2 separate regions of the Homo sapiens genome follow, and region 1 is linked to region 2. The links come from fine-mapping of genetic effects on gene expression. A gene starts in region 2. The other region holds a variant in brackets. All regions are shown on one strand. Distances are between the middles of the regions.

Evidence for each region.
Region 1: its variant is fine-mapped to the expression of EIF2A in whole blood (INTERVAL, PIP above 0.99).

The regions. Positions count from the first base shown.
Region 1 is chr3:150,660,781-150,676,688 of GRCh38, forward strand. ERICH6 (glutamate rich 6) reads right to left here. Exons shown (of 14, transcript NM_152394.5): 11 at 13,176-13,261; 12 at 8,516-8,671; 13 at 6,007-6,235. Among named protein-coding and RNA genes, the nearest start is that of ERICH6-AS1, 35 kb to the right of the region's middle. The variant C/T (reference allele first, on the strand shown) is at 7,856.
Region 2 is chr3:150,540,072-150,555,979 of GRCh38, forward strand. EIF2A (eukaryotic translation initiation factor 2A) reads left to right here and starts at 6,716. Exons shown (of 14, transcript NM_032025.5): 1 at 6,716-6,759; 2 at 12,285-12,354. The coding sequence starts at 6,732. It overlaps SERP1 (stress associated endoplasmic reticulum protein 1), which reads right to left and starts at 6,425. Exons shown (of 3, transcript NM_014445.4): 1 at 5,981-6,425; 2 at 5,632-5,707; 3 at 1,927-4,427. The coding sequence starts at 6,064. The coding sequence ends at 4,387. RefSeq lists enhancers at 5,936-6,566, 6,012-7,211, 6,484-7,023.

The sequences.
Region 1 (15,908 bases), 120 kb after region 2:
AGCCAGCCTAGAAGGGGCATTTAGCCTCTCTGGGGCAGGTTAAATGCAAGCAGAACTACTACCCTCTGCAAGCTAAGTGACCACTTACCTGCAAAGGTGATACTTACAGTATCATTTCTGTATTTCACTCCTCCTTCCATAGAAAGGAAGGAATAGAGGAAGGAAAGAGTATGAGATGGACAAATAACAAAGAATAGTTCAGAATCTTTTACCCCAAATATCACACCATGACAGAAAACTTTTTTACAGATTAAGTCAATGATGGCTCTAATAAGAAAGATTTATCCCCCTGCCCCCACCTTGTTTCCAGCGGGGTTGGAATAAGAAAGATTTCATCGGCAGGATAATTTTAAGGAATTCCTGAAAAATCAAAAAGCAGATGAGACCATATGCATATAGAGAGAAATGACGAAATGAAACCACTAACCAAAAACACATATACTCTGAGCTCAAACTCAACAGAAATGGGAAGCAGGATGGAGTCTGAGGTAAACATTAGGCTGATCAATTGGGAGGCAGGCCCCTCACCTTTTCCTTTTTGTGTTGAGCACTGATGCCCACAGGCTGAGGCTGGCAGCGGGCACTAGCGCTAGCCTTCTACCCCTTAGCATCTGAAGCAAACTTTAGTAAGCAGAACAGGGAAACAGGAATTCTCAAATTCAAATTGAACACACAACTGAGAATCACCGAATATTTGACGCCACTAAAGAGAGGCACCAGATTTACCTATCAGAGAAACTTATACTCAAGGAAAAATAATTAGGAGATAGAGGAAGACTTTAGGAAATATATCCATATTTATATAGTTAATATTTTCCGAGGGACTTGAGAGAATATTGTTAAGGAAGAAAAACAACTAGAGGATTTGGAAGTTAATTCTATGCATATTATAAAAGATATGTTAATTTTAAACTAACCATTAAAATATAGTGTATTAAAAGACTGAGTCTGTTAGCTGGGCATGGTGGTGCATGCCTGTAGTCCTAGCTACTTGGGAGGCTGAGGCAGGATGATGGCTTGAACCCAGGAGTTTTCAGTTACAGTGAGCTATGGTCACGCCACTACACTCCAGCCTGGGTGACAGAGCAAAACCCTGTCTCTAAAAACAAACAAACAAAAAAACCACTGAGTCTGCTAGGTTGAGGAAAGGAACACAATCCAACTATATGTGGTTTGCCCGAGAACATATAACTCAAAACTACATTAAAAAGGTTGAAAATCAAAGGATGAAAAAATATCAAACAAACGCTAACAAAGAGAAAGCAAGTGTAAGAATTTAACATCAGATGGAATAGCACTTAAGGTAAAGGCCACTAAAAGGGAAATTAGGAATAACACATGTTGATAACATTACTACCTTTATTGTCAAAATAAAAACAAAACCCTCACTAATACACTAGGGCGCGTAATGGGAACAACTGAAGAGCGAATGAGTGAGGGGAAAGAATGGGCTGGCCCTGGCGAAAGGTACAACTCACAAAGAAGAGAGTCAGCATCTTTAATTTCCTGATCACAGAGCTTCAAAATATATACGGCAAAAGTTGATTGAAATACTAGAAACAATGAACAAGTTCACAACCATTTTGGGAAACTTTCATACATTTCTCAGAAGTAAACCCAATGACACAAAAATAAAAGGATAGAGAGGGAGGTGTGGCTAGAACAACTGGACATAGAATTTTGTACCAATAAACTGTACAACTTTTTTGGTTAAATATACATGGAACACTTATAAAAATTATGTAACCAACCACAAAGAAAATATCAATATATTCTAAACAGGAAGGAAAAAACTGCAAGTCATATTTCCTGACCATTTTGAAATTAACAAGAGAGGGGTAAATCTTTCTATCTATTTGAAAATTCAGTGACTACTGCATTGAAGTCAAAATGGGTATTCTAAATTATTTAGAAGTGAAAGAAAATGACAGCACTATATATTAAAACGTGTGGCAAATGACCAAAGAGGCACTCAGAGTGCTAGGGAGAAGGTGGGGGTGGGTGTGGCTGGTTTTGATGGGTTGCTCAGAAAAGGACGCTGCGCAGAAGCCTGAAGGAAGTGAGGGAACAGCCACATGCTAAATGGGGATAAAACATTTTAGGTTGAGGCGACAGCAAATGCAAAGACTCTGTGACAGGAACATGCCTGATATTTTCAAGGAATAGCAAAAAGGCCAGTATGGCTGGAACAGAATGAGTGAGATAAGATAATACAGAGAGATTATTCAGAGAAAGAGGTCCAGATTGTGTACAGCATTGCAAGTCTTTATAGGGCCTTGGCTTTTACTCGAGTAAAATTAGAAGTCCCCGGAGAGTTCTGACCAGACTTACGTTTTCAAAGTATCATTCTAAGTATTGTGTTAGAATAGACTTTGGGAAGGCCAGAAGCAGGGAGACTTATTAGGAGGCTATTGCAATAATCAAGCAAGAGATGGATCAGGTAAAGAGGCAGACAAGAATGATAGCACTGGAAAATGTGAGAAGTGTGAGACTCTGGAGGTATTTTGGAGGTAGAGTTTACAGATGAGTTGGTATGGGACTGTGAAACAGCGTTTAGAGTTGTGAAACTACTCCCGAGTTTTTGTCCTGAATAAGTGAAAGAATGTAGTTGCCATTTTCTGAGATGGAGAGGACTGAGACTGGATCAAGTGTTGAAATCAAGTTCTGCTGTGTTAAGTTTTTTCTTTTTTTCCTAACAGGGTCTTGCTCTGTTGCCCAGGCTGGAGTGCAGCAGCACAATCACGGCTCATGCAGCCTTGAACCCCCTGCCCCCACCCCGCCAATGGTGGGCTCAAGTTATCCTTTCACCTCAGCCTCCCAGATAGCTGAGACCACAGGCATGCGCCACCATGTCTGGAGAATTTAAAAAACGACTTTCATAGAGATCGGGTCTCACTATGTTGCCCAAGCTGGTCTCACACTCCTGGGCTCAAGTAATGCTCCCGTCACAGCCTCCCAAAGTGCTGGGATTACAGGCATAAGCCACCGCGCCTGGCCTGTGTTTTTTTTCATGCCCCCTTAGAAATCCAGATGGGTATGTTGAATTGGAATCAGAGACTTGCAAGTCTCAAGTTCATAGGAGATCTACCTGAAGATACAAATTAAAGGGCTATCAGCATGCAGATGATATTTAAGGAAGTGAGACTCAATGAGATAATCTGATAATATAATCAGATAATGAGATTATCTGAGATAATCTGAGGAGTGAATATAGAGAAAAGACCACCCAAGGACAAGCTCTGGGTTCCTCCAATATTTAGAAAAAGGGGAGATGAAGAGTAATCAGGCCAGAAAAATGAGAAGAAACAGCCTGTGAGGTACAGGGAAAATCAGGGGAGAATAGTCTTGGAAGCAAGGGAAGAAATGATTCCAGGAAGAAGAGATCATCAGTGTTTAATGCCACTGAGAAGTCATTAAATTTCATATAAATTTAATATTTATATTGAATTCAATATTCTTCAAAATGTAGACACAAATAAATCTTCAATACTTACTAAGTGGGAAACAAAAACAAATAGGAACCCCCATCAACAATATAATCTGTATATTATCTAATTTTTATGTTTTAAAAAAGATGTATAAAATAGGCTGGGCACGGTGGCTCACGCCTATAATCTCGGCATTTTGGGAGGCCCAGGTAGGCAGATCACCTGAGGTCAGGAGTTCGACACCAGCCTGGCCAACATGGTGAAACCCCGCCTCTACTAAAAATACAAAATTAACTGAGTGTGGTGGTGCACGCCTGAGCCCCAGCTACTCAGGAGGCTGAGGCATGAGAATCGCTTGAACCCGGGAGGTGGAGGTTGCAGTGAGCCAAGATCACTCCACTGCACTCCAGTCTGGGCAACAGAGCGAGACTCCATCTGAAAAAAAAAAAAGATGTATAAAATAATTTATAAATACATAGTAAGAAGGAAGGTACACACTAAATTTTGTGTGGTGCTTACTTTGGGGAAGGGAGTTAGAATAGAAGAAGAAATAAAGGGAATCTCATTTTTTAAAAAATTATCTTTATTTCTGTATTGTTTGAATCTTTAAATCTTTAAATATAAAAATATATTCACAAGTTGCTTGTAATTAAAAAAAAAACCTAAAGGGTGATTATGAGAACAATGAGAAAAGTAAAAAACTTTAATAATGAACTCTTCCTTTTGCATCAAAATGACTCTTTTTTGATTAAAATTAATTTCTAAGTGGGGAGAGGAAGGGAGGTGCAGGGGTGGGGGAAGGAAGTAGAGGGAGAGAGAGAGGGGAGAAAGAAGTATTTTTATATTTTGTGTAAGAATGTATTTACTATGGATGTAATGTAACAAAAGGAGGGGATACTGCAGATTTCTAACCAAGAAAGAAGTTTGTCTGGAGCCTAAAAATTTGACTGCAGTTTCCAGACTTACTGAAAGGAACTGGAAAAGTGCTTAGCACATTGTAGACCCTCGCTCTATGTTGCCTGAATTTGAAATCTCCCCTTTGTTTGGTGGTCATGAGATATTCCTTCCTGTGTTGAATATTGAGATTCTATTTCCACATACTTAAAAGTTGAAGGCACTTTTGAAGTTTGGAGCTATGTCTTCCTTTAAAAATCAATGAAACAGGCCTTACATGGTGGTGTGCCTGTAGTCCCAGCTATTTGGGAGGCTGAGACAGGAGAATCGCTTGAACCCGGGAGGCGGAGGTTGCAGTGAGCCAAGCTCGCACCACTGCACTCCAGCCTGGCGACGGAGAGAGACTCCATCTCAAAAAAAAAAAAAAAAAATCGACGAAACAGGCCGGGAGTGGTGGCTCATGCCTGGAATCTCTGCACTTTCAGAGGTTGAGGCAGGTGGATTACCTGAGGTCAGGAGTTCGAGACCAGCCTGGCCAACATGGTGAAACCCTGTCTCTACTAAAAATACAAAAATTAGCCGGGCATGGTGGTGGGCGCCTGTAGTCCCAGCTACTCAGGACGGTGAGGCAGGAAGAATTGCTTGAACCTGGGAGGTGGAGGTTGCAGTGAGCTGAGATCGCGCCACTGTACTCCAGCCTGGAAGACAGAGCAAGGCTCCATCTCAAAAAAAAAAAAAAAAAAAAATCAATGACACAAAGGTCCTTAAAGTTTAAGGGACCTGTTCAAAGTCACACACTATATGTGTTATTTATGTATATAGCTATACATCCATCTCTATTTGTATCCATCTCTATGTCTATATTATTTTATTTAGTGCCAAGTACCACCCTTAGTACTTTGCATTCTCATCAAATCTTCACAGCAATCTGTAAGGTCGGAATCATTATTCCATTTTATGGATAAGGAAACTGAAGTTCAAGCTCACTCAGTCAAGTGGCAGAGCTGAGGTTTGAAACTACAGAGAATCTGCAACCTGAATTCCACGTTCTTAACCATCGTGCATTATTGCCGGTCACTGAGAGTGTACTCAGGGCTGTGCCCTGGGAGAGGCACTGGAGTTACAGAAGTCAACAAGATAGAGATTCTTCCTGTCAGGAGCTTGCCATCCAGTAGGAACGGCAGCACTGTTCAACAAGCACGGGGATGGTGGCAAGTACACAGAAAACCCACAGAAGGATGTGGTTGAGGCTGACTGGGTGAAGGACTAGGAGGTCTGGGAAGTGTCTCTAAGGAGACAGGGCTTATGATTGGTCTTGAACATGATTCAAACTCAGGTCTCCTGACCCAACCCAAGTCTCTCTACCATGGCGGGGAGAAAAACAAACACAATACGAAATCTTTAAACTAAACCCCCAGAGCAGCACTACTCTGGCACAGAGCAAACACTCAATAAGTGTTACTTGGATCTGAGTCTGAACTAAAAGGAATTTCAGAGTAAGAAACAGTAAAGCCACCTCAATTCCATATGAAGCTTTCATTACATGTTTTTCCATTGAATTCCAAAATCCTAGTGGACAGTAGATTATGCACTAGTGTAATCTATCAGTAATAATACTAACAAAAGTTAGTTTACTCTTATTATTATTCTAAATGCTTTAAACTGTTTTTAAAAATGTACCTACCTTCACTTTGGTTCCAACACTGATTCTTGCCTGTTGGCCCATTGCTAGAAAAGTTATAGAAATCTTGTCTTGTTCTAAGATGCGGACTCCAATATAACGGTTCAAAGCCAGAAAGACAGGTTTAAATGAAACAAAGGGTGAGGAAGTGATGGAATTTGACCAATTCCAAGCCCTTATTCTGTTGCCGGCTTGATCTGAATATTGACCTCCCAAGATATTGATGTATACCCTGGTCAGGAAGGAAATGTAAATATCATAAACAGTAACACTGTAATTAAATACTGGAATTATCCCTGTCACTTGCTAACCAAGGGGAGTAACGGTTTATGCCAGCGATTAGCAGGAGTGGTGGAAACTTCAGGTAATCTTAGGAGTGATAATACTATGACTAAATTCTACACGAATCTGAAGTACTGTATCCTGTTTGAGTTCATACTGATAAACTAAAATGGGTCCAAAGGATCAGCCTGGGATGAAGGAGTCTGGAAGGTTGAAGAGGGAGCAGGGAAGGCTTAGTCTGGAGAAAATGAGATACAGAAGAGTAGATTAATCCTGAAAGAGGAGGAAAGACCAGTGCTTAGATTTTCACCACACCGAAATAAAGACCTGTGGCTGTAAATTCTGGGGAAGGCTGTGTTGACCTCAGTACAAGAGAGCTGTTTTCTGGCAATTCCCAACTAGGAGCTAGGAGTCCTTCCAGGAGTCCTCCCATCATGGCTGAATGTGGGGGCAGAGGCTCAGGGAACACCTCTGTGATCACTGCAGTGGAGAAGAGGTCTGTGACAGAGCAAAGGTGGACCTTAGACCCACGAGGCGACCCCATCTCTTCAGACCATGAATGCCTTACATTTTACTACATCACGTTTAGCCCCTCACCATCTGAGATCTGGCAGCACTAATCGCTGTGCCATTCTATTCAGTTATCTCCTTCTCATACCCTCTTACCATCCCCACCTTGAGGAGAGACAGTAGATATAGTGTTCTGGGTACTCAGAAAGTTGGCTTAATTTGATAATAAATTATTTTTTGAAAACTAGATGACTTGGCCATGGGGACCCCTAGCTAACATCTCATGTTAGAGATGTTATTGTTATACCTGTATATAACTTAAAGGAAAAGACCTCTTTCTAAAAAGTTCAAAAAGTTTAAATTGTATTTGAAGTTAGAACCCAAATTTCACTTTGTCAGGCTAAATGAAATAATATGAAGTTACAGAGTATATACATAGTAGGTTAAATTGGACCCAGTATTGATCAGTGGTAGTAATCTAATAACAAAAGCACAAATGAGAAACTGAGGTGATTATCTGATTGTGTCTAGGAAGGGAAGATTTAGTTTTATCTTGAAATCTGGGTGAAAATAATATCCAGCTAAAATTATCTGGCTAAATCAGTCCCTTGTTTATTTAGTAAACATTCTTTGAGTCTACACTATGTACAGATGTGCTGCTATGTAGTAGCAAAGATTCAGGATGTGCCCTCAAGGAATGTCTGTCAAGTAAGGGAAATGGACTCACTACACAAGAGGCAGAGAGGGCTATGAGAGTATCAAGGAGCCATCTCAGGGTGCCTCGGAGTTCAGTTTATGGGGCAGGGGCTTCATAAAACCAATCTGGAAGAACCGATTGGTTTCCAGTCTAGAAACCAACGAATATTGGTGACAGTATAGCACTGCATCAAAGGTAACATAGAATTGCTGTAGAATCCTGAAAGATAAGTAGAAAGTTTCCAATATACATGGTGGTAATGAATTGACTACTGCTGTGGACGAAAAACACAAATAGCTCGGTATCCTAACTTTCTGAAGGACTAGCAGTATATAAACTTCACCAATTACTGGCAGAGGTTCC[C/T]GAGATGAGATTGTTATACCTGTATATAACTTAAAGGAAAAGACCTCTTTCTGAAAAGTTCAAAAAGTTTAAATTGTATTGGAAGTTAGAACCCAAATTTCACTTTGTCAGGCTAAATGAAGTCACAGAGTATATACATAGTAGGTTAAATTGGGACCAGGATCTTAATTTCTCTGGAGATTTTGTGTGTATGTTACTCTTCTTGCTTGTGGCTATAGGAAGCTTACTAGTTAGGAATGTATCTCAAACAATAACAACATAGTGTATCAACTGTCTATTGACAAGTTGTTTACATAGATGAAGCAGAATAACATCATCAGGGCACAGGCTCTAGAGACTGCCTCAGTTACATCCCAAATCCCTAGAGTTACCATATCATTTATCAAGTTTTTTTGTATGTTGTAATTATATAGTTCATATATTCTTACTATGTATAGAAATAATATGATGAGCTTTATTTTTATAATTGCTTGGGATTTTTCCACTGAAAAGCATACGGAATGGTGTAAACCAAAAATGTCTCTGAGTTGAACATTACCATCTAAAGAACACTAACTTAAATAAATCTTCTGAAACCCATTCTTATCATTTAAAAAGAAAAAACAAAATTTCCCAGAACAAAAGCCACAAAATGGCAGCAGCAGGAACCTAGAAGCTTACCAGACATTTCCATTGGGATGATAGCAGGAACTTCTGCCAGAGGAATCCAGCACTGCTAGGATAGCAGGGTTAGTGGGCATATCTTCTTGGACTATACAAGTAAAACCATTTACCTTGTTGGGCACTCGAATGATGGCTAGGTTTCCAGATGGATAGCTGAGATCAGATAAGGTCATATAAATTGTTCTAATGCTCCTTGACTATTCTGGGAACAAATTCAATTTATGAGAGAGCACTCTGAAATCATAAAGCATTCTGAAAATGGGAGGTACTATATTAATACAAAAGATTTTATGCTTTTTATGTGGATCAGAATATACTCATGAGATGCAAAAATCCTCAACAAAATCTTGCAAATGAACTGTCACAATATAAAAAGGATTACGCACCATGATGAAGTAGGGTTTACCCCAGATATGCAAGGTTGGTTTAACATCTGAAAATAACTTAATATACCATATTAATAAAGAGCAAAAAACACAAGGTCATCTCAACAGACACAGAAAAAGCATTTGACAAGTTTCAGCCCTCTTAATAATAAGAAAACTCAATGGATTTCAAATAGGAATGAATGTCCTCAACCTGATAAAGAGTATCTACAAAAAGCCCACAGCTGGGCTGGGCATGGTGGCTCATGCCCATAATCCCAGCACTTACGGAGGCCAAGGCAGGAGGATTGTTGAAGCCCAGGAGTTCCAGACCAGCCTGGGCAATATGGTAAGACCCTGTCTCTACAAAACAATTTTTTTCATCTTCAGAATTTTGATTTTTTTAATTTAAAAAAACCCACAATTAAAACTATACTTAATGGTGAAAGATTTAGTGCTTTCTTCCTAAGATCAGAAACTAAACAAAAATGTCCACTCTTACTACTTCTATTCAACATCGCACTATTAATAGATGTTCTGGCTGGGCGTGGTGGCTCACACCTGTAATCTCAGCACTTGGGGAGGCTGAGGCGGGTGGATCATGAGGTCAGGAGATTGAGATCATCCTTGCCAACATGGTGAAACCCCATCTCTACTAAAATTACAAAAATAGCCAGGCATGGTGGTGTGCACCTGTAGTCCCAGCTACTCAGGAGGCTGAGGCAGGAGAATTGCTTGAACCTGGGAGGCGGAGGTTGCAGTGAGCCAAGATCGTGCCACTGCACTCTAGCCTGGGTGACAGGGCAAGACTCCATCTCAAAAAAAAAAAAAAAAAAAAAGTTCTAGCCATGGAAGTTTAGGGAAAAAAAAAAGGAAATGAAAAGCATCCAGATTGGAAAGGGAAGTAAAACTGTACCTATTAGCAGATGACATGTTCTTGTATATAGAAAATCCTAAGGAATTCATAAGATAATGTATTAAACCCGATAAATGAGTTCAGCAGGGTTGTAAGCTACAAGATCAATATACAAAAATAAATTGTATTTCTATACACTAACAGTAGACATTCTAAAAATGAGATTAAGAAAGCAATTCTATTTTCAATAGCATCAAAAGCAATAAAATATACTGAAGATAATTCACTAACTCTTAATACTCATTTCCATATCCAGGCTGGTTAGAAGTCCAGAAATAAACACAAGATTGATTCTAAATCATTTTGCAAATCAACCACAGCCTTCAAGAAAGTTAAGAGGAATAAAGTCAGGGCATGAAATGATTAATAATAAAAGTTGGAAAACTGTATATTTTTATATGGTTTTTATACAGACACAGCCTGTAGTCCCAGCTGCTTGGGAGACTGAGGTGGGAGGGTCACCTGAGCCCAGGAGTTTGAGGCCAGCCTAGGCAACATAATAGGATTCTGTCTCTAAAAACTTTAAAAAAATTTTTAGGTCAGGTAAATTATTTAAAATTTATTGATGTAATTAAAACAAAACCTACACACTCTCATAAGGTCTAGGGAACTAAAACTTCATTATGCTTCCTATTCTGTGAAAGTCATTTTTCTGGCTTACTATTGGGGTTTAAGTAAACACTTACGAAACGATGACCAAAAATGACTTTCTTCTACAGGGGGAGGCTCTCAGTTCATGAAAAGCCTCCTCATTTTTTTGCTTCTTGTTTTTACTTTCCTCAGATATTATGAGGATCTGAAAAGCTCAAAAAGTTTAAATATTAAATGAATGACCTGGCCATCAGGCAGAAAGTCCAAGTGATCAATAACTTGGTGTTCCATGAAATGGATATTTAATTTTGGTATTAAAAATTGTCCACCACTCATGGGTGTGTAAACTGGTATATATTTTCTGGGGTGGAGGGATGGCAAAATCTATCAAAGCTTTAAAATGTCCAAATTATTCTTCCAGAATTTCTAGCCCTATATGTTTATTTATTTATTTACTTATTTATTTAATTTTTTGAGATAGGGTCTTGCTGTGTTGCCCAGGTCAGAGTGCAATGGCACGATCACAGCTCACTGCAGCCTCCACCTCTCTGGCTCAGAAAAATCCTCCCACCTCAGCCTTCCAGGTAGCTGTAACTACAGGTGTGCACCACAACACCTGGCTAATTTTTTGTATTTTGTTGTAGACACAGGCTTTCACCATGTTGCCCAGGCTGATCTCAAATTGCTGAGCTCATGCGATCTGCCCACTGTGGCCTCTCAAAGGGCTGGGATTATAGGCATGGGTCACCATGCCCAGCCTCAACCCCTAGGTATTTAATTCAAGAAAATAAGTGGTAACTATGCCACAAAGTATGCACAAAGCTGTTTATTTAGCTGTTGTGTATAATAGCAAAAATTGTGAAACCACTTTTGTTCAGTAATAGGGGATAGGTTAAATGAATTATAGTACATCTATATAATAAAGTACTATGTGGTTATAAAACGGTGTTGCTACCTGTGGATGGTTTTTTGGGGAAAAAATGTGTTGTATCTTTATATTTATTGCATATCATATATTTATAACATTATTGTATAATTTCATTATGTAAAGGAGTCAGAAAATATGAATAAACAAAGAATCCATTTATATATACATATATATATATATGCTCATACACAGAAAAAACATTTTAAAAAACCCCATAGGCCGGGTGTGGTGGCTCATGCCTGTAATCCCAGCACTTTGGGAGGCCAAGGTGAGCAGGTTACCTGAATTCAAGAGTTCAAGACCAGCCTTGGCAACATAGCGAAACCCTGTCTCTACTAAAAATACAAAAATTAGCTGGGCGTGGTGGCATGTGCCTGTAATCCCAGCTACTCGGGAGGCTGAGGCAGGAAAATTGCTTGAACCTGGGAGGTGGAGGTTGCAGTGAGCCAAGATCCCACTACTGCACTACAGCCTAGGTGAGACTATGTCTCAAAAAACAAACAAACAAACAAAAACCATATATTTTTCTTTTTCTTTTTTTATTTTTCTCTTTTCTTTTTTTTTTTAATTGCTCTTCGTGGAGCAGGGCTACTCCATAGGAATTGTGTTCAGAATAGCCAAAAAAACATATATTTTTAAATGCTGGCCAGACACAGTGGCTCACACCTGTAATCTCAGCCATTTGGGAGACTGGGGTGGGAGGATCGCTTGCACCCAGGAGTTCAAGACCAGCCTGGGCAACATAGAGAGACCCCATCTCTACCAAAATTTAAAAAATTAGCCAGGTGTAGTGGTGCATGCCTGTGGTCCCAGCTACTTAGGATGCTGAGTTGGGGGGACTGCTTGAACCCAGGAGGTTGAGGTTGCAGTGGGTCATAATTGTGCCACTGCACTCTAACCCGGGCCTCACAGTGAGACCCTGTCTTAAAAAAACAATAGTAATAAAATGCTAACATCTTTTCTTTGGGTGGTAGAATTTGAGGGTAGTCTCTCCTTCCTTCCTTCCTTCCTTTTTCCTTCCTTCCTTCCTTCTTCCTTCCTTCCTTCCTTCCTCCCTCCCTTCCATCCGTCTTTCTCTTTCTTCCTCTCTTTCCTCTCTCTTTCTTTCTTTCTTGGTCTTGCTCTGTCATTTAGGCTGGAGTGCAGTGGCATGATGATGGCTCACTGCAGCCTTGACCCCTCGGGCTCAAGCAATCCTTTCACCTCAGCCTCCTGAGTAGCCAGGACTTCAAGGTGTGTACCACCACACCTGGCTAATTTTCTTATTTTTTGTAGAGATGAGCTCTCACTATGCTGCTCAGGCTGATCTCAAACCCCTGGGCTCAAGTAATCCTCCTGCCTCAGCCTCCCAAAGTGCTGGGATTATAAGCGTAAGCCACCACACTAAGTTCCTTTATAGTTTTGTTTTATCTTTCTATTTATGTCTTTTTAGTTAAAATTTCTATTTTTCAATTACACTGGATCTTTATCTTTTTCTGTGTTTTGTTTGTTTGTTTGTTTGTTTTTCTGAGACACGGTCCCACTTCGTTGCCCATGCTGGAGTGCAGTGGCACAATCTCAGTTCACTGCAGCCTCTACCTCCTGAGCCCAGATGATCCTTCTACTTCAGTCTCCCGAGTAGCTGAGACTACAGGCATGTGCCATCACGCCCAGCTAACACTTTGTGGAGACGGAGTTTTGCCATGTTGCCCAGGCTGGTCTCAACCTTCTGAGCTCAAGTGATCTGCCCACCTCAGCCTCCCAAAGTGCTGGCATTACAGGTGTGAGCCACTGCACCCAACCATGTATTTCCTTCCTTGAGCTTTCTTTTTTTTGAAGTAATAAAGCTAATAAAAATAACTTGTTGAAAGAGGATACAATATTTGTGTTGTCCCATCTGGAAATGAAGTCAGAAACTTGCTCCCATGTTTGTAGTGCTTCTCTAAGAGCTCATTCCTGACAACCTATACACCACAGAAAAGAAAAGACACTTAATTGTTTCGGACATAAAGTAGTAAGTACGACAACAATGGACATCAGCTGGTTACTAGACAGTCATACAAATCAATTATTAATTTAAATGTTGGCCCTGCTTCAACAACAGGAGACAACCCTTAGCAATTATTAACAGATTGTCCCTAATCCTTGCAAGTATAACTTGATAAAAATCCTTCTGGTAGAAATCTGACATTACATATCTATTTTAATTTTTTTTTTTTTTTACTTTATACACGTTACTAAAAGAACAAAACAAAAGCAGATAAAAACCAGCCCCAGCACAATGTGCAGTGCCATTGCTATCATAAATCAGATATTCATGCATGCATGAGTCTGTTTCTGAACTCTATTATGCATATGGATTTCCTTGTTTATCCTGCCCCAATACTATACTGCCTTAATTACTATATTTTGTAATAGATCTTAATTTCTGGTAGAACACATCCTCCTTTCCTCAGCCTCTTCTTCTTCAAGAGTGTTTTGGTTACTCTAGGTTCTTTATATTTCCACATACATTTTAGAATCAACTTGTCAAGACTTCCCTTCCCCCAATACACACACATATGCAATCTTGCTGGAATCTGAGATTATACTGGATCTATGGATCACTCTGGAAAGAATGATCAAAGAGTGTCATCTTTAAAATATTTCCTCTGCCTATCCATGAACATTAGGTCAAATTTGGTAAATGGATTGCTCATATTTTCTATAGCATTACTGCCCCCCAACCTTTTTTTTTTTTCTTGGTCTAGTAGTCAATTATTGAAAGAGGTAGTGCTGGGCGCAGTGGCTCACACCCATAATCCCAGTACTTTGGGAGGCTGAGGCAGGTGGATCACCTGAGGTCAGAAGTTCGAGACCAGCCTGGCCAACATGGTGAAACCCTGTCTTCACTAAACATAGAAAAATTAGTTGGGCGTGGTGGCACACGCCTGTAATCCCAGATACTTGGGAGGCTGAGGCAAGTGAATTGCTTGAACCTGGGAAGCAGAGGTTGCAGTGAGCCGAGATCATGCTACTGAACTCCAGCCTGGGCAACAGAGCAAGACTGTCTCAAAAAAAATAAGAGGTAGGCTAAAATATCTCATTATGAATATGGTTTTCTTTATTTCTCCTTTTACTTCTGTGAAATTTTGCTTCACATATTTTTGAGGCTGTGCTAATATGGACAATGTATTTTGTAATGCTATATCTTACTGGTGGATTGAAATTTTGTCAATTAAAAAGTGATCATCTTTATCTTTATTTTATAAAGTGATCCTCTTATCTTTATCTCACACTTTTTTTTTTGAGACAAGAGTCTTGCTCTGTTGCCCAGGCTGCTGTGCAGTGGTAAGATCTCAGCTCACTGCAACTTCCACCCCCTGGGTTCAAGTGATTTTCCTGCCTCAGCCTCCTGAGTAGCTGGGATTACAGGCATGTGCCACCACGCCTGGCTAATCTTTGTATTTTTAGTAGAGATGGGGTTTCACCATGTTGGCCAGGCTGGTCTCAAACTCCCTACCTTAGGTGGTCTGCCTGCTTTGGTCTCCTAGAGGGCTGGGATTACAGGTGTAAGCCACTGCACCTGACCTAGCTTACACTTTCTTGAAATATATTTTAACTGGGTATAGAATTCTAGATTGGCCATTGTTTTTTTTTTTTACCACACTGAAGACATTCCATTGCCTTTGAGCCTCTATTGTTGCTGTTGGGAGGTCATCTGCTAATCTAATTGTTTTCTTTTAAATGTAACCTGAACTTTTTTTCCTCTGCTACTTCTAATAATTCTTTCTTTCTTTCCTTTTTTTTTTTTTTGGTCTTTGGTTTTCTGCAGTTTCACTATGATGTGTCTAGAATTTTTTTTTTTTCTCATACTGCTTGAGATCACTGGGATTCTTAAACCTGTTGATTGGTCTCTTTTATCAGTTTTGAAAAATTATCATCCATTATCTTTTAAAATATTACCTCTACCTGATTATCTTTTTTTCTCTTCTTCTGGGATTTTGAACAAATGCACGTTAGACCTTTCTTTTTATTTTTGTTCCATACACTCTCTCTTGTGTTTCTTGCCTTTTTTAATCCCCATAATGAGTTTTGATATTTTTTCTTTTCAACCTTTCTTCCTGGGCAGTAGTTCTTTCTTTAGTGGAGTCTAACCTGCTCTCAGCTTTCATCTTTTAAGTTTTTAATTTTGATTGTTGTATTTTTCATTTCAGCTGTTGCAGTTTTCATTTTCATTTCAGTTCATTTTTTTCCATTTCAAATTTGCTATGTCAGTTTATAGTTTTCTGTTCCCTTCATATATCTTCAAGCTGATCTTTTATTTTCATGATCACGGTTAGACTTCCTCATTTTCCAAAGTCTTTTCAGGTCTCTTCTTATTAGATATTATTCCTCTAGATTTTTAGTTGTATTGTTAAGTTTTCTTGTGTTCTTGGTTATTTTTCACTGTGTGCTGGTAACTGAACTTGAAAAATAATTTGTAGGTGTGATTTGAAGGTGGAATTAGTGACCGTCCTCCAAAGATAGTTTGGATTTACTTCTGCCAGTCACCTGGGTTTACTGACAGCCCTTACATTCTTTTGGTTTGTTTGTTTGTTTTGAGATGGGGGTCTTGATCTGTCACCCAGG
Region 2 (15,908 bases):
TTGCTTTATTGGTGTTAGGAAGGACAGTATCTCTAGGCCATATGTCCTCAAATGTAAAATAAAAGGCCCAATCAAGATCATTTCTAAAGCTCCTAAATCAATTATTTCAGTTCAAAGTAAACTATTCTCATTCTCCGTTTGGCAGGCTTTCTCCATAACACACTGTTAGAAAATAAAAATTTGTTGTTAGTCCATGTAATGATACTGTAATGTTTTAATAATTTAAATACACAGATGTATTCTATCTGCACTGCAAAGTAGAAATCTGCACACTGGAAAATCTTCATTAAACCCTTTGTTATAAAAAGTATCTCTGGGGAGCACATTGCTTCATTTTTCGGACTACTGGACTGCCTATTAAAAATTTTTATTTTGGCCAGGCATGGTGCCTCTTGCCTGTCATCTCAGCACGTTGGGAGGCTGAGACAGGAGGATCACTTGAGCCTAGGAGTTTAAGAGTAGCCTGGGCAACATAGCAAGACCCCACCTCTATTTTTTAAAAAATTAAAAACAAAATAAAATTATTTATTTTACACTTTTCAACAACACAGATTAAAAATTTTTTAATTTTTTTTTTTTTGAGATGGAGTTTCTACTCTTGTTGCCCAGGCTGGAGAGCAATGCTGCAATCCTGGCACACTGCAACCTCCGCCTCCCAGGTTCAAGATATTCTCCTGCCTCAGCCTCCCAAGTAGCTGGGATCACAGGCATGCGCCAGCACACCCGGCTAATATTGTATTTTTAGTAGAGACTGGGTTTCACCATGTTGGCCAAGCTGGTCTCGAACTCCTGATTTGAGGTGATCCACCCGCCTCGGCCTCCCAAAGTGCTGGGATTACAAGTGTGAGGCACCGCGCCTGGCCCAGATGAAAAATTATTAAAAACTCTAGCAAAATAATTTTTAAAAATGTAACCTTAAATGTATCACAGTGGTAACATTACTAGCCCTTGCATTTTTGTGCTGTACAGGGAGCACCACTAGTAAATTTGTCACTAGTTTTTTTTAAATGCACCCATAAAAGGACAGATTCCTTTTTCCTTCGAATTGGCAATTAAAAAAAAATTAAAGAATTTCTGTAAAAGCAGAAGCAAAGAGCTCGTGAAAACAGAAGTGTTCTAAGTGTAAGTTTTGCAATCATTCCTATTACCATAAAGTACAAGAAACTTTGGTTCGTTTCTGCTCTCCCCCAATTAGCTCTGTGATTGAAAAAAACAAAAAACAACAAAAAAAATTTATCTGGCTTTACTTGTCCTTTGACATACTTATTACAATTGTAGTTATGCTTTCATTTTGTCTGTTCCTTCTCTACTGGTCTGAGATATTTCAGTGTCAGGACTATGTATTCACAGTTCCATACCTGGCATATAAGTTGTTCACTGACTAAAATGCATGTTTTTGTTAATCTGCGAATTGAAGCAGTTGGATTAAATTTTCCATGTCCCTTCTTTGTTTCTGTGATATATATTTACTTTGAATTACCTAAGCCTAGGCAGTTAATTTTTCCCTTAATTTCTAGCCTTTTATTGCTCATTAATCCTCTTTCTAAATAAGGACATGTGTCCTAATTCAATTTGAAAATAAAGTAGTACAAGTAGCTACTGTGGTACTAAGTAAGTTTAGACAGGAAATGCTTCTCTGAGGGAGTGCCATAGAGTTTGCTGTTGAAGCCAATCAACTCCTACCTCTTGAAGTTACGGTTTGCATCTAAAAAATAAATTTAAAAACTACAAAGGCAAGTAAAGGCAAATCAAACTTAAGAACAATTTCTAAATGGAGAATCTGATGCTCTAAGTTTCACAAATGAAGCATAATAAAGTTTTGCTGGTGAACCTACTAAGCCCAGGAACATAATCCAGCTCTCCATGGTTGTCCTTTGTACCAACAGAACTCCAGTAACCTCAGTGAGAAGAGTCATGGCCCTGCAGTTGACTATCCACATTTCTTTAATGTAAGTCAAAGCCCATCACAATGCATCCTGTTACAATGGAAATCTTATTTTTGGAAGTCCACTTAATTATTTTGAGCAACATTATATACAACCCAACAGATACAATTAATTGACAACTTGTTGAAATGTTAGAGTTAAACCACAAAGAGTAACTGAGTAATGTTGACAACCCCAATATTTATTCTCATACTGTGCTCAACATTAGATGATCTATAAAATTCAACTGGCAAAGGGAGATCAAAGAATTGTGCTTCATCTTGAGCTTGAATTGGATGACAAGGAGATTAGGAAATCCTAAGTGGAAAAATATTCAAATCATTGTGCTTTCTATATATTTTTCTTACCACCTATTTCCAGTTATAAACCTTACATCTGTGCCTCTGCATACCATTTAAGTACAATACTAAACATTCTTTAAAATCATTTTCTACTAACTATAAAAGGTACACTCAGATAACTGTAAAATCATTTCCGTTTAGAAGAAAAGCATCAAATATTCAGGGAACTTTATTTTTAAAGAATAAATCAAGTAAGACACAGCTTTCGTTTACCTAAACATGCATAATCCAACCTGAATATAAACTGCACTTAATTGGTGAATTACACATGAAATACAAAGGGAATGCAATTTTACATATGTAAAATGATTGCTAGCTATAGCAATTTAACAGTCAAATTTATCAGAACATTGTACATTAAAAAACACAAACAACAACTTAAAGCCAAATATCTATAGTAAACCAAGGAAAATTCTGATATGGAATGGTTTGACTAAAAGCAAAGAATAAGGCACCTGCTATGAATTTAGCACAACCATAAAACAGAATTAGTTAACCAAGACACTTGTTTCAAAAAGGGAAACAAGTACAGAGACTGATTAACTGGGTGAGAAAGGCAAGTAACAATTTAGTTAAAAACCTGCTGGCCCAAGGTCAGTTGATTCATTCCTTATTCCAGAATAGTTAAGTTCCTGAAAGTCCTTAACCACTCTGCTCCCTTACTGTTCTCCATGTTTGAGGGTATCAGAAGCCCCCTGTGAGGTTCACGCTGTGTATAGACTAGGTAGCAGATTTCCCTTCTGTTCCTCTTAAAACAGCTTATTTTAAAAGAAATATCCTGAGGCAATTAACAAAGCAAACACAAGCAGCTTTCTTTCCAACGCATTAATACATAGACACTGCTCAGGTTTTTTTTCACCAAGTTATGGCTAAGTATACAAATAGCCAATACTTGCAGTTTTCAACAGTACTAGAAAACCCAAAACCTGCCCTATGACCCTCACCCTTACCATTAGTAAAACGTAAATTTGATCAATCATAACCTATAAAGTCATATAACAAAGGGAAGACTAAAGACTGATCATTATCAGTAAATCCATTCAATTCCAGATGCCACTTTAGGCTGATGTGTCTAGTACCCTAATGATTGAAAAATCATTAATCTAGAAAAAGCATTTGCAAACTAAGGATAACTTCGCAGTTGATGTGCCTTTTTTTGCTATTAAAAGTGCTATTTAACATGCTAAAATGTCTTATGGCACATTGGACTCAACAGCATGTTCTGATGAGGCATCCATTTTTAGCAGTATTTTTCCCTAGAATTTTGTTTGGCATAGTAAACCCCTTTGATATATTAAAATAGTTCTGGTGAAATAAATGTAACATAAACAAACCTTCCCTGACTGACTTCACTCCACCACGGTAGCTTTTAGTGAAACCACAGTAACTGATTAAGTCAGAAAACGATCAAGTTTTTTTTTTATGGCATCTTGGGTTACTATACTCACTCATGCAAAATCCAAGGTAGTGTAATGGAAACAATATTGGTAAAATAGATGTTGTGGCTATAAGCATCTCCCTTTATATTAGACATTTAGAAGCTTTTAAAACTTTTTAGATGCTAAAGGTTGTGGCAAAACTAGGCTGTGTAGTTGTTCCATTTATAAGCACCTTATTACAGGACAGTTACATGAACCTATAAGGGAGTGTGCTTTCAGTTCAAAAGAGTAATAAAGTGCCTAGCTATATAAAAACCACAAGACTTCAAATTGTAATTTAAGCTAACTGCAGTTATACATTTGGGTTAACAAAATCTAGACCCTGTCTATGCAGAGTTAGACTAATTGTTCATACTGTTTTAATAACCACATAAAAAAACTTACTCTTAATTGACTGAATAAGTAGGGTCCACTACTGTATCTTAACAATCAAATTTTATTGCTTTATTCATGTGGTGTTTTTTGCAAGGCACTGTGGTATGGACTAGAAAACTTGGAATGACTCATGAAGAAACCTTGGAATGACACATGAAGCATGATAGGAAAGTCATTCTGAGGCAGGATGCTTTACTGAATTGTTTTCAACCAGGGTATCAAACATCAGGAATGAGTTCAAGTTAAAATTCACAGGAGAATGGAAACATCTTAAGGTCAGTCACTTCACATGCCCATCCTGATACTTTGAATAATCTGGAAAATTGCTGTAAAAAGAAAGAGCAAATATTAAAATAAGCTTTGAATAAAATAGGTCTGGTGTCTAACAAATATTTATTAAGGTAGCTGAAGAATCCAAAGGTACTCTTACATTTGCAAATGGTACATAACTTCAGTATAATAAGAAGTGAAGACAGGCCTGTCTGAATAAATAAAACAATGAAATATCCCTGAGTTATTTTTTTATCTTAGCTTCGCTGAACTTTATGTCTAAGTATCCAAGAGAACTTGCAGATAAGTAATCATTTTACAAAGAACTTAAAGCACCAAAGCCAACAGGTTTTTCCAGCATAGAATTATTTTGGTTTATAAGCATCCTTTTAAGGCCTGGCCTGTAACACATGCATGTTTCCTCATTCTCACAAAGCTGAAATTCAATCATCTTCAGGTTATATAAACTGCTTGGCTCTCATCCATTTATCAGGAAAGCTTCCAATTGGTAAGTGAAGAAGAAAGGCAAAGTGAAACGTTAAACAGAAATCTCAGTAATTTTAGAATGTGGAAAACAAACATCTACTTCAATATTAACAGCTTGCATATTAAAATGATAAATGAAGAGAGGAAAGACCTTTTTTTTGTAATCTATTTGCAAAGGCAAGTGTCTGTTACTCTTAGGGGACAGCAGGCTACCCCGACACTTTTTTTTTAAACCATGTATCAAACGTTTCTTTTATTAACCTAAAAACATTTGACTCACACATTAAAATGCCAATCAGGTAATTTCCTCTATAGTGAATCAATTCTTTGCACAAGCTTTATTTTATAAAATATACTCAATTTTGACATTAAGACATTAGATTCTGGTATATGTTAAATCAAGTTCTAACATCTATAGTACATATTTATAATTTTCTTTGCAAAGACTGATAATGGAGTTACAAAACATTCTAAATTCTCATTTCGTTAGGTTTTGTCCGGTCTTAACATTTATTCCAACTGGATCATTACCAAGACCTGACCTCCTTTTTGATCTCCTGTGAGTACAAATTAAGCTGGGAGAAGTTTCTGGAGCACCACCCTCTGTGCATATGTGGAACAAGTAATTTGGTTCAGACGAAACAGAATTATGTGGAGTCCTCGGCAGGTGGGTTGAGAACTACGCAGGTAGGACTCACTACTGACCGGTCACCACGTCATCCCAAATCCTTTCAACCCAAGACTCTACCTGATGGGAGCCCCCAAGCCACTTACCAGAACCACAGACAACAAAAATGAAGAGAGCCAATAACCAGGGTCCTACAGACGCCTTCTCTTCGGGGGCATTTCTCTGCAAAAGCGAAAATCCACCATTTCAGATGCAGAGAAACCACTCGGACCCCAGGCTCCCACGCCTGCACGCCGGTCGCCGGCCCCCTCACCTCACAGGTCTCCCCTTCCGTTCCCGAGCCCCCACAGTCTGGCGGTTCGCAGACTCGGGCCCCTACCCCTCCACGGCACCAGCCCACGGTCGGCCGGATCCGGGAGAAAACGCGACGCGGCCCCAGGGACCCGGACTCAGCTCCGGCTGCGGAACGCAGAGGGGCGCCCGCTCTTTCCTTACCGAGGTCTTGGCGACGTTGCCGCGCTGGGTGATGTTCTTGCTGTGCTTCTCGTTGGCCATACGGATCCTTTGCTTGGCGACCATCTTCGCGGCGCCACCACCTGCCCCGGCCACCCCTCGGACTCGCTCACTCGCCTGCCTCCTCTGGAGCCGCTGCGAGGCTCGGCTCGTGGTGCCCGCGCCGCCGGAGCGCCGAGGTTCTCAGGCCAGACGCTAGCTACGGCCGCTGGGCCTGGGCGCCGCAAGCGCGAGGTCTGAGCACAAGCCGGGCGCCGGCCGCCGACTGACTGACCGAGCGGGGCAGGTGCGCAGGAGGAAGAGAACTGGCCGCCGGGTCGTTCTCGCGCCGCCGTCGCCGCCGCTTTGGCCGCCGCCGTGAGCGCGGAGTGAAAGAGGAAGGAAACGCAACGCAACAACGGGAATGTGCAGCCCGCCGCCTCGATCTACTTTGGGTTCGGCTGCCAACGTCAGCACTAGACGGACTCCGCCCCGCGGAAGTGCGCGCCCCTCCCGCTGGAGAAGGAGGGCGAAAGCAGGCGCACCCTCCCAAGCTCTGTCAAGCGTCGCCCTAGATTTGCGCGTGCGCGTTTGGGCGCCTTTTCCGCGTCACTCCGTAACCGGAAGTGAATTGGCCCCGAGGCTGATGGCTCCGGAAACACCAATTCGCTGTCTCCACGCATGAGGAGACGTGTAGGGGCCGGGTTCGGCCCTGGTGAACTCTCACCCGAGCGGTTTCTCTTTCCGGGACAACATGGCGCCGTCCACGCCGCTCTTGACAGGTGAGTTCTGAAGAAGCGAGGGACTCTCTTTCTTCAGACTAGTTTCTTATTTTTGTCTTTGCCTTTGAGAACTACCCGAGGAGCCGGGGAGTCTGATCTGCCTTTTCTTGTGGCTTGCGGAAAGGCCAGACTGTTGGCTTTCTTGATATAGCGTGGCAATCGGAAGTGAAGTCTCCGCCTCTGGGCTTTCGTATTCCCCCTCCCTTTCACCCATCCATCATTCTTGCCTGCGGATTCATCTTCTACAGAAATAGAAGAAGGGGGAGAAAAACAATGTGCTAGTTGAATTTGTGACACATGGGTCTGCAATACTGGTGTTACACGGGCCCTTGTGAAGTCATTTAGGTCTACAATAAGAACAAAGACAAACATGAGTTAGTCCTCTAGAATGATCACGCACTTTAAATACACCTGGACTTAAGTAATTCCAGATTCTGGCCTTCCTGCCTTAATGAGGTTTGTAGGACTGAATAGGGAGAGTGGAGCTGTAATGCAGGTTTCAAATGATGAAGGTGTGGTTGGGAGAGGGTGTAGCAGTGAGCATGATAGAGATATTCTAGCAACATTTGATTTTGAAATGGTTATGAGCATATTAGAAATAGAACATTAGAGGACTCTTGAAATTTTGAAGCTAAAGACTGTAGTGTTGGAGGAGATAATAAACTTAGATTGGAAAATGCTGGGGAAGTTGCTTTACTAGGGTGTGGCTAAGAGTCTGCATATGAGTATTACGTAAGGAAAAGAGAGTCGGGAAGGAAAAGAAGGTTTTGGTTAAGTTCTGATAACTATATAGAAGGAAAAAGTCATTAAGAGAAAGGTTGTCTGCATTTAAGGAGGGAGGCTATTCCCTCCCTTCCCCCCCGCGAAAGGAACCTTAAAACATTTTTGCACTTTTTGCCAGTCTACATTTCTATTTTTACATTTTAAAATCTTTGTTATTAAGCGCCATGCCCACTGATGCTCAGTCTGTCTTCTGCAGTTTAGTCATCATTTATCAAACGCCGAGTATAATCTTCTAGATAATATACCAGGCAAAGACTGTTTAAAAGGCAAAGTTACATAATAAATTTTTTTTTAGGTTTGTAAAGGTAGCTTGTTATTCACAATTTTTAATACTAAATGCTTATTTGAACTCTAATGAAAAAATTACATTCTAAAATCTGATAAATAACCCCTCCTTTAAAAATGCCTACAGTAGGTAGTTCCTCTCTGCTTACAGGGTAGATTCCATCCTATGTAGCATAGTTATGTAACCATTTATAATCTTTGAATTGCTCTTGAGACTCATTTATTTCCTTGCCATCCCATCTTATTTGGTGCTCCATCAATACTGAACTGCTTCTGAGTCCCTTTGAACAACCTGTTTCTTCAGTCTAGTACTATCCTATGCCTCTTGTTGATTTGGCAAACTCTTTTTCATCTGTTGAAATTAAAATTCATTTTAGATATCATTGCTCTGTGAAGCCTTTCGTCACTCTACCCAGATAGAGTCAGTCACTTCCTGGGCTATTTTTGTACCTGAAATATATTTGAAATTTTATTTCACTTACTAAGTAGGATAATTAGACATTCACTTGCCTTTCTCCCCTGCTAGACTGTGAGTCCTTCAATGTCAGCGACAGGGTCTTATTCATATCTGTCTTCTCAGTACTAGTGCAGTGCCTGGTAGACAATAGATACTCTAAATCAGGGGTCCCCAACCCCCTGGGCCGGACTGGTACTGGGCAAGCATTACCACTTGAGCTTCCCCTCCTGTCAGATCAGTGGGGGCATTAGAGCCTCATAAGAGCGCAAACCCTATTTTGAACTGTGCATACAAGAGATCTAGATTAGATTTGTCTGTTTAGACTATCCTTTTAAATTAATGAAGGATAGCCACTTTATAGTAAATTAACCAAGGATGACAATTGTCTTACAGTGCTTAAAATCAGGGACTTTGTAAGAGCTTAAATGTTGTCTGTTCAGTCTACTCTTCATATTCTCATATTCTTAGAGGCCCAGAGAGATTAAGTGGTCCGATTCACACTGCAAATTGGCAGGATTAGGATTATACTTATTCAGATTGTTCAACTCTGTGGTCCATTTTTCTTTCACTAGAACAAACTGTTTAATCTTTTAAACATTCTCAGTGTACATATTTCATTCAACAATAGATTATTTTACTTCCAAAATCTTTTGTTAAATTTAGACTCGTGGGATTTTAGAGCTGTGAATAATTTGCAGATTAGCCAGTAAATTTTGTTAACCCCAACTCTTAATTGGGAGTGACAAGCCAAAGCAGGTGAAAAAGGGATTTTTTTTTTTAAACTCGTATAACCTAAAAGCCTCAGTACTGCTAGATCCAGATACTCACATGGCTTCAGAAATCTGTTTTTCTTTCTTTCTTTCTTTCTTTTTTTTTTTTTTTGAGATAGTTTCGCTCTTGTTGCCCAGGCTGGAGTGCAATGGCGCGATCTTGGCTCGCTGCAACCTCCACCTCCCAAGTGCAAGCAATTCTTCTGCCTCAGCCTCCTGAGTAGCTGGGATTACAGGCGTGCACCACCACGCCCAGCTAATTTTGTATTTTTAGTAGAGTTGGGGTTTCACCAAGTTGGTCAGGTTGGTCTTGAACGCCTGTCCTCGGGTGAGCCACACGCCTCTGCCTCCCAAAGTGCTGGGATTACAGGTGTGAGCCACCATGCCTGGCCAGAAATCTGTTTTTCTTCATCTGTAGGTTCTTGCTTTCCTCCAGATTAAATTCATCTTTAAACTGACATTCAACCAAATGCCCAGCTCCAAAGGAAAGAACACATTTTTGCCAGTAGTCTCAGCAAAAATCTCAAGGCTAGCTGCCTTTGACTTTGCTTGGCTCACCTTTGTATCAGTCAACTTTTAATCATGTAGTCAGGACTAAATTATCTTCCCACTCCTCGATACTCCTCAAAAGAAAATGAGCGCCTCCTAAAGAAGAGGAGCTGGTTGCTAGGCACATAAAACAGCAATGTCCATTACGTGAAATTCACATTGTCTAATCTGCTTGACCAGTTGAAGTCACAGAGATAATTTATTCAAAATTGAGTGATTTTCCTAAACTAATACATAGTTCAGTGAATGTAAGAGTTGGGAAAAGTATCGTATTTTAAAGATGACTACACCCCTGCCATGGGATCCTTGTTTATTGAAGCCCTGTGTTTTTCTCTCTCTAACTCAGGCCTAGAGCAATAAATAGTATATGAATGTCTAAAAAGGCTAGTAAGCTTGGAAAAGATTATGTAGATGTTTAATGTATTTCACACAGCTACTGTGTGAAACTGGCGTTTATTTGTTGTCTTAAAAGAACTGCTTGCATTCTAGATTTTTCTTTCTGCTAGAACATATTGCCAATCCCATTTGATTGAAGAGGGAAATCACTAAAAACAGGGAATCACACAAACTCAGAATACACTATATTAAGCTAACTACGCATTGTATTTAGTTTCACAGATACTTGTAACTAAAAAGGATTCCTTGTTAGAAAGTTACATGTAGAAAAAAATTGTTTCAGTATTGAGAAGTTTTTTAGTCCCTATTTATTTTTGCTTTTATTAGTTTAAAACAGTTTATGTTCTGTTATGGACCTGATTTTGTGTTTTTTTCTAATAAACTTTGTATCACAGCTTATCAGGAGTAAATTAAACTGTATATGCTTTTATTAAATTTATTTAATAGAAAAACTAATTAAATCTAGCAAGGCATCTTAGAAGTACAAAATGTCAGTTTGGGCCAGGTGGCTTACAGCTGTAATCCCAGCACTTTGGAAGGCTGAGGGAAGCAGATTGGATTGCTTGAGCTGAGGAGTTTAAGACCAGCCTAGGCAATGTAGTGAAACCTCGTCTCTACAAGAAATATAAAACTTAACATGGCTTGGTGGTGGGTGACATGATCATGGTTCACTGTGGCCTTGACTTCCCAAGTCCAGGTGATCCTCCTGCCTCAGCCGTGCGAATAGCTGGGACTACAGGCATGTGCCACCGTGCCCAGCTAATTTTTGTAGAGACAGCATCTCCCTATGTTGCCCAGGCTGGTCTTGAATTCCTGGGCTCAAGCCATCTGCCTGCCTCGGCCTCCCAAAGTACTGGGATTACAGGTGTGAGCCACCACGCCTAGCCTGAGCCCTATTTTGTTTTCCAGCTTCATCATCCTCTAGCCACACAGGCCTTCTTTCCATCCCCTTGACGCTCTGTCGTTTTTCTTTCCATGGGGTTTTTGCACTTGTTAACTGTTCTCCTTGCTTGTTAACTGCCATTGATCCTTTACATCTCAGTATACAAAACACTTAAGGATGCTTTCCCTAACCTTCCATTTTTAGGTTAAAACTCTCTTTTATACCCTCAGTGGTACCATATACCTTTCCTTTGAAGGACTAAACACAGGTATATGATTCCGTATATTTGGCCAATTATTTGATTACTGTTTGCAAAGTTCAATGAGGTCAGAGACAAGGCTGATTTTCTTTCCTATTATTTCGCCAATGTTCAACACAGGGCCTAGGAGGTAGTTTGTTCGTTTTTTTCCCACTAAGCATTTGTTGACTAAATGAATCTATTTATTTGGTTCAGCTTTAGAAGCATTTAATTCAACCATTTAAAAAAGTATAGTCTAGGCTAGGTGCGGTGGCTCACACCTGTAATCTCAGCACTTTGTGAGGCTGAGGAGGGAGGATTGCCTTAGCCCAGGAGTTAGAGATCAGCCTGGGCAACAGTGAGACTCTGTCTCTACAAAAAAAAAAAATAGCCAAGCAGGGTGGCACATGCCTGTAGTCCCAGCTACTTGGGAAACTGAGCCAGGAGCATCACTTAAGTCCAGGAGTTTGAAGTTGCAGTGAGCCTTGATCATGCCACTGTACTCCAGCCTGGGTGACAGCAAGACCCTGTCTCAAAAAAATAAATAAATTTAAACATAGAAATAAGAAGTATAGTCTAGTTCTGTAGATGATTATTTAATCTTGAACTTTGTTTCCACTTAATTTTTTAGGCTATTACTGTCATTGGGGCCTTAATAAATGAATATGTCTCATTCCACTTGTTCTCTTAGTTTGATAAATTGTGAATATATTAATATTGCCTTATATTTCTAAAAACTTTAAACATATACTTTTTTTATTACTTTATATAAAGCATACAGCTATCCTGTGTTCTGATATTTCCATTTTACAGATTAGGTCACAGATTCAGAGGTGGTAACGTATCCAAGGTTCCACAGGCAGTTATAAACTTAGGTCAGGCTCTGAATTCATGTCCTCTTTACCACAAGACAGCTGCCTTTCTTTCAGTGGTGACAAAGTTTCGAGTTTTATTTAAAAAGTTACGTATTTCTCAGCAATTATATGATTTTATGTAACAGAGTAAGAAAATATGCCCTTTTGTTGCTAATATTCTATAGTTCAATGAAATATTTAATGATTTCATTAATATTTTGACTAAAGCTGCTTTTTTAAAAAACACATTTGTGTTAACTGAGTCTTTATTAACAAAGTAATTGTGGTTCTTTTTATTTTACTTCTTTAGTCCGAGGATCAGAAGGACTGTACATGGTGAATGGACCACCACATTTTACAGAAAGCACAGTGTTTCCAAGGTATGATTTATTTTGTTAAGTAATGTTATAGGGAACATACAGTACAATCTAAAATGGTTTTGTTGGTGGTGTATTTTGAACAAGAAAGGAAAAGAACAGATGAACTCATTTTTATTGTATAATATTTACCGAAGATGAAAAGAATACATATTCTCTATCAAGGAAAATGATCTTCAGATCTGAAAATAGTAACTTAAGCCTATTTATAAGGTAGGGGGAACAATACTAAGAAAAAGTGTAGACACTAGTGTAATTGAATACAAGCCTTTATTTTACAAGAGTTGTATCTTAAGGAATGAGAAAAACTTGCAAATTTGATAGCCAAATCATGGCCAGTAATCTTAGTGAAATCATAATGAAAAAGATATTAAAAAGGGAGGACATATATATGCACATAGTATATAGCTAGCTAGATTAATTTTTTTTTCCCCAAAGAAACAATGGACAAGTAAACCAAAAACTAGTTAAAAATGCTTATCTATAGGGGGAGAGAGTTACAGAATGCGGGGGAGAGAGTTACAGGATGCAGGGGACACATCTGTGAAAGAGCTTTGGTATAGTTTTGACTTTGGACCATATAATTGTTTTAAATTTAAAAATTAAATTAAAAGCTGGGCCCGGTGGCTCACGCCTGTAATCCCAGCACTATGGGAGGCCAAGGCAGGCCAGATCACCTGAGGTCAGGAGTTCAAGACCAGCCTGGCCAACATGGCAAAACCCCATCTCGGCTAAAAATACAAAAATTAGCCGGGTGTGGGGGCAGGCGCCTGTAATCCCAGCTACTCTACTCGGGAGGCTGATGCAGCAGAATCGCTTGAAACCCGGAGGTGGAGGTTGCAGTGAGCCAAAATCAGGGCATTGCACTCCAGCCTGGGCAAAAAGATGAGACTCCGTCTCAAAAAAAAAAAAAAAAAAAATTGGGAAACTAAAATAAGTGATTCTAGCTTTATATCAGGTTGGTGGCATAACCATGTGAAGACCTGCAAAATTCTTTTTTTTTGAGACTGAGTTTTGCCCTTGTTGCCCAGGCTAGAGTGCAGTGGTGCAATCTCGGCTTAATGCAACCTCTGCCCCCCAGGTTCAAGCGATTCTCCTGCCTCAGCCTCCCAAGTAGGTGGGATTACAGGTGCCTGCCACCATGCCTGGCTAATTTTTTTGTATTTGTAGTAGTGACAGAGTTTCACCGTGTTGGCCAGGCTAGTCTCAAACTCCTGACCTCAGGTGATCCACCTGTCTCATCCTCCCAAAGTGCTGGGATTACAGACGTGAGCCACCATGCCTGGCCTAATAGTTTTCTTTTTAACTGAAAGTTGATATTGTCATTTGAATCTACTATAGGATAGAGTAAATTAATTGTATTAATGTTGTTAGGCACCAAGATTTTTCAGCATTAGAGTGAAAAGATAGACTTGCCTATATCAGTATGAACTCATGATTTCCTTTCATAAAACATTTGCATTTCCTAGTTCTGGCCAATGAAAAGGCCTGGAAGCAGTGATAACACAGTAGCAGTGAATACCCCATCCTCACAGATTGTGATCTCTAAATACAATTCTTCACTAAAAGGAACCACTTCCTTGGAGAAGTGGTCAACTCTAGGTCTGGGACAGAAAATGTACAAGTTGAGGTAGCAACTTTTGTGCCAGAAAGCAAAGCTATAAAAGACTAATGAGATTTTGTTAAAGGGTCGTAGGAAGCAACTTGAAGAGATTCACACCAACCTAAGATGGGAACATTAAGAATTATGAATAGAAAGATAAAGCATGTCAAGTATATAAATGCTCCCCCGAAAAATCCCCCCTCCGTTTAAACCTAACTGGTCAGCATTGGTGGTTGATGGAGTCCTCACTCATTACTTTGAAAATTGATAAATAAAGGGAAGGAGTCAAGCATTTATCTTGCCTTTCTTATACAAACTGTTTCTCAGAGTAACCAAGTGGTTGATGAGAAAAAGAATTTTATAGACGAATTCCAGTTAATAAATGGAGAATGGATGCTGGATCAGACAATTACCATTTTGTAATCCTCAAGAAATGGATCTAGGCCACTGGTTCTCAAACTTTACCAAGCATCAGAATCATCTGAAAAGCTCGTTAAAATCCAGATTGCAGCTCTCTTTCCAAATGTTCGGATTCATTAGATCAGCGGTAGGGCCCAATAATTTGCATTTTTAACAAATTCCCCAGTGATACTGATGCTGCAAATCTGGGGACCCCCCTTTAAGAACCACTGATCTAGGCAGATGATCATCAAAAGATGCTGAAACCTTTAGCTGAACTGTTTGATGACTGTTAATGGGGAACTTTATAATCAGGCTGTTGTCATCTGACTCTACTGACCAATTTTTATTAGGCCCAGTTCTCTAGAACCTTGCTACAGGAAGCATGGGCCCAACCAAGACCAACTATATTGGCATCACTCCTGAGCCAGTACAGAAATGCATCTCAGGCCCTACCCAACTTACTGAATCAGAATCTGTATTTTAGCTAGATCTTCAGATGATTTATATGCACTTTTTTTTTTCCAGAGTCTTGCTCTGCTGCCCAGGCTAGAATGGAGTGGTGTAATCATGGCCCACTGTAGCCTCAATCTCCCAGGCTCAAACAATACTCCTGCCTCAGTATCCCAAGTAGCTGGGACTATAGGCGCATGCCACCATGCCTGGCTAATTTTTGTATGTTTTGTAGAGATGGGGGTCTCACTATGTTGCCCAGGCTGCTCTCCAACTCCTGGGCTCAAGAGATCCAACCGCCTTGGCCTCCCAAAGTGCTGGGATTACAGGCCTCAGCCACCATGCCTGGCCTGTATGCACATTATTTATTTATTTACTTATTTATTTATTTTTTTTGAGATGGAGTTTCACTCTTGTTGCCCAGGCTGGAGTGCAATGGTACAATCTCGGCTCACTGCAACCTCTGCTTCCTGGGTTCAAGCGATTCTCCTGCCTCAGCCTCCCAAGTAGCTGGGATTATAGGCACCTGCTACCACACCTGGCTAAATTTTTTTATTTTTAGTAGAGACGTGGTTTCACCATGTTGGCCAGGCTGGTCTCGAACTTCTGACCTCAGGTGATTCACCCTCCTTGGCCTCCCAAAGTGCTGGGATTACAGGTGTGAGCCACCACACCCGGCCATGTATGCACATTAATGTTTGAGAAGCACTACTCTAGAAAACCCAGTCTGGCTGGGCGCGGTGGCTCATGCCTGTAATCCCAGCGCTTTGGGAGGCCAAGGTGGGTGGATCACTTGAGCCCAGGAGTTCAGGATGAGCCTGGGCAGTATGGCAAAACCCCATATCTATTTAAAAAACAAAAAACAAAAAAAAAACTATGGCAAAGTTATGTGCTACACTTCATTAGGGTATGCAGTCCCAAGGCTGCAGGAGTAGGGGAGAAAGGGAAATGAGACAGGGAAGGAGTTAAAGCAAGTATGATGGGATATACTGAGGTGACCACAAATCCACAAAATATAGCCAACTTGCTTGGTCATGTGTGCAAAATTTTTGTCTCCAGAAAGGCTGTATGGAACATTTGTACTTCAGAACAGTCTGTTGTG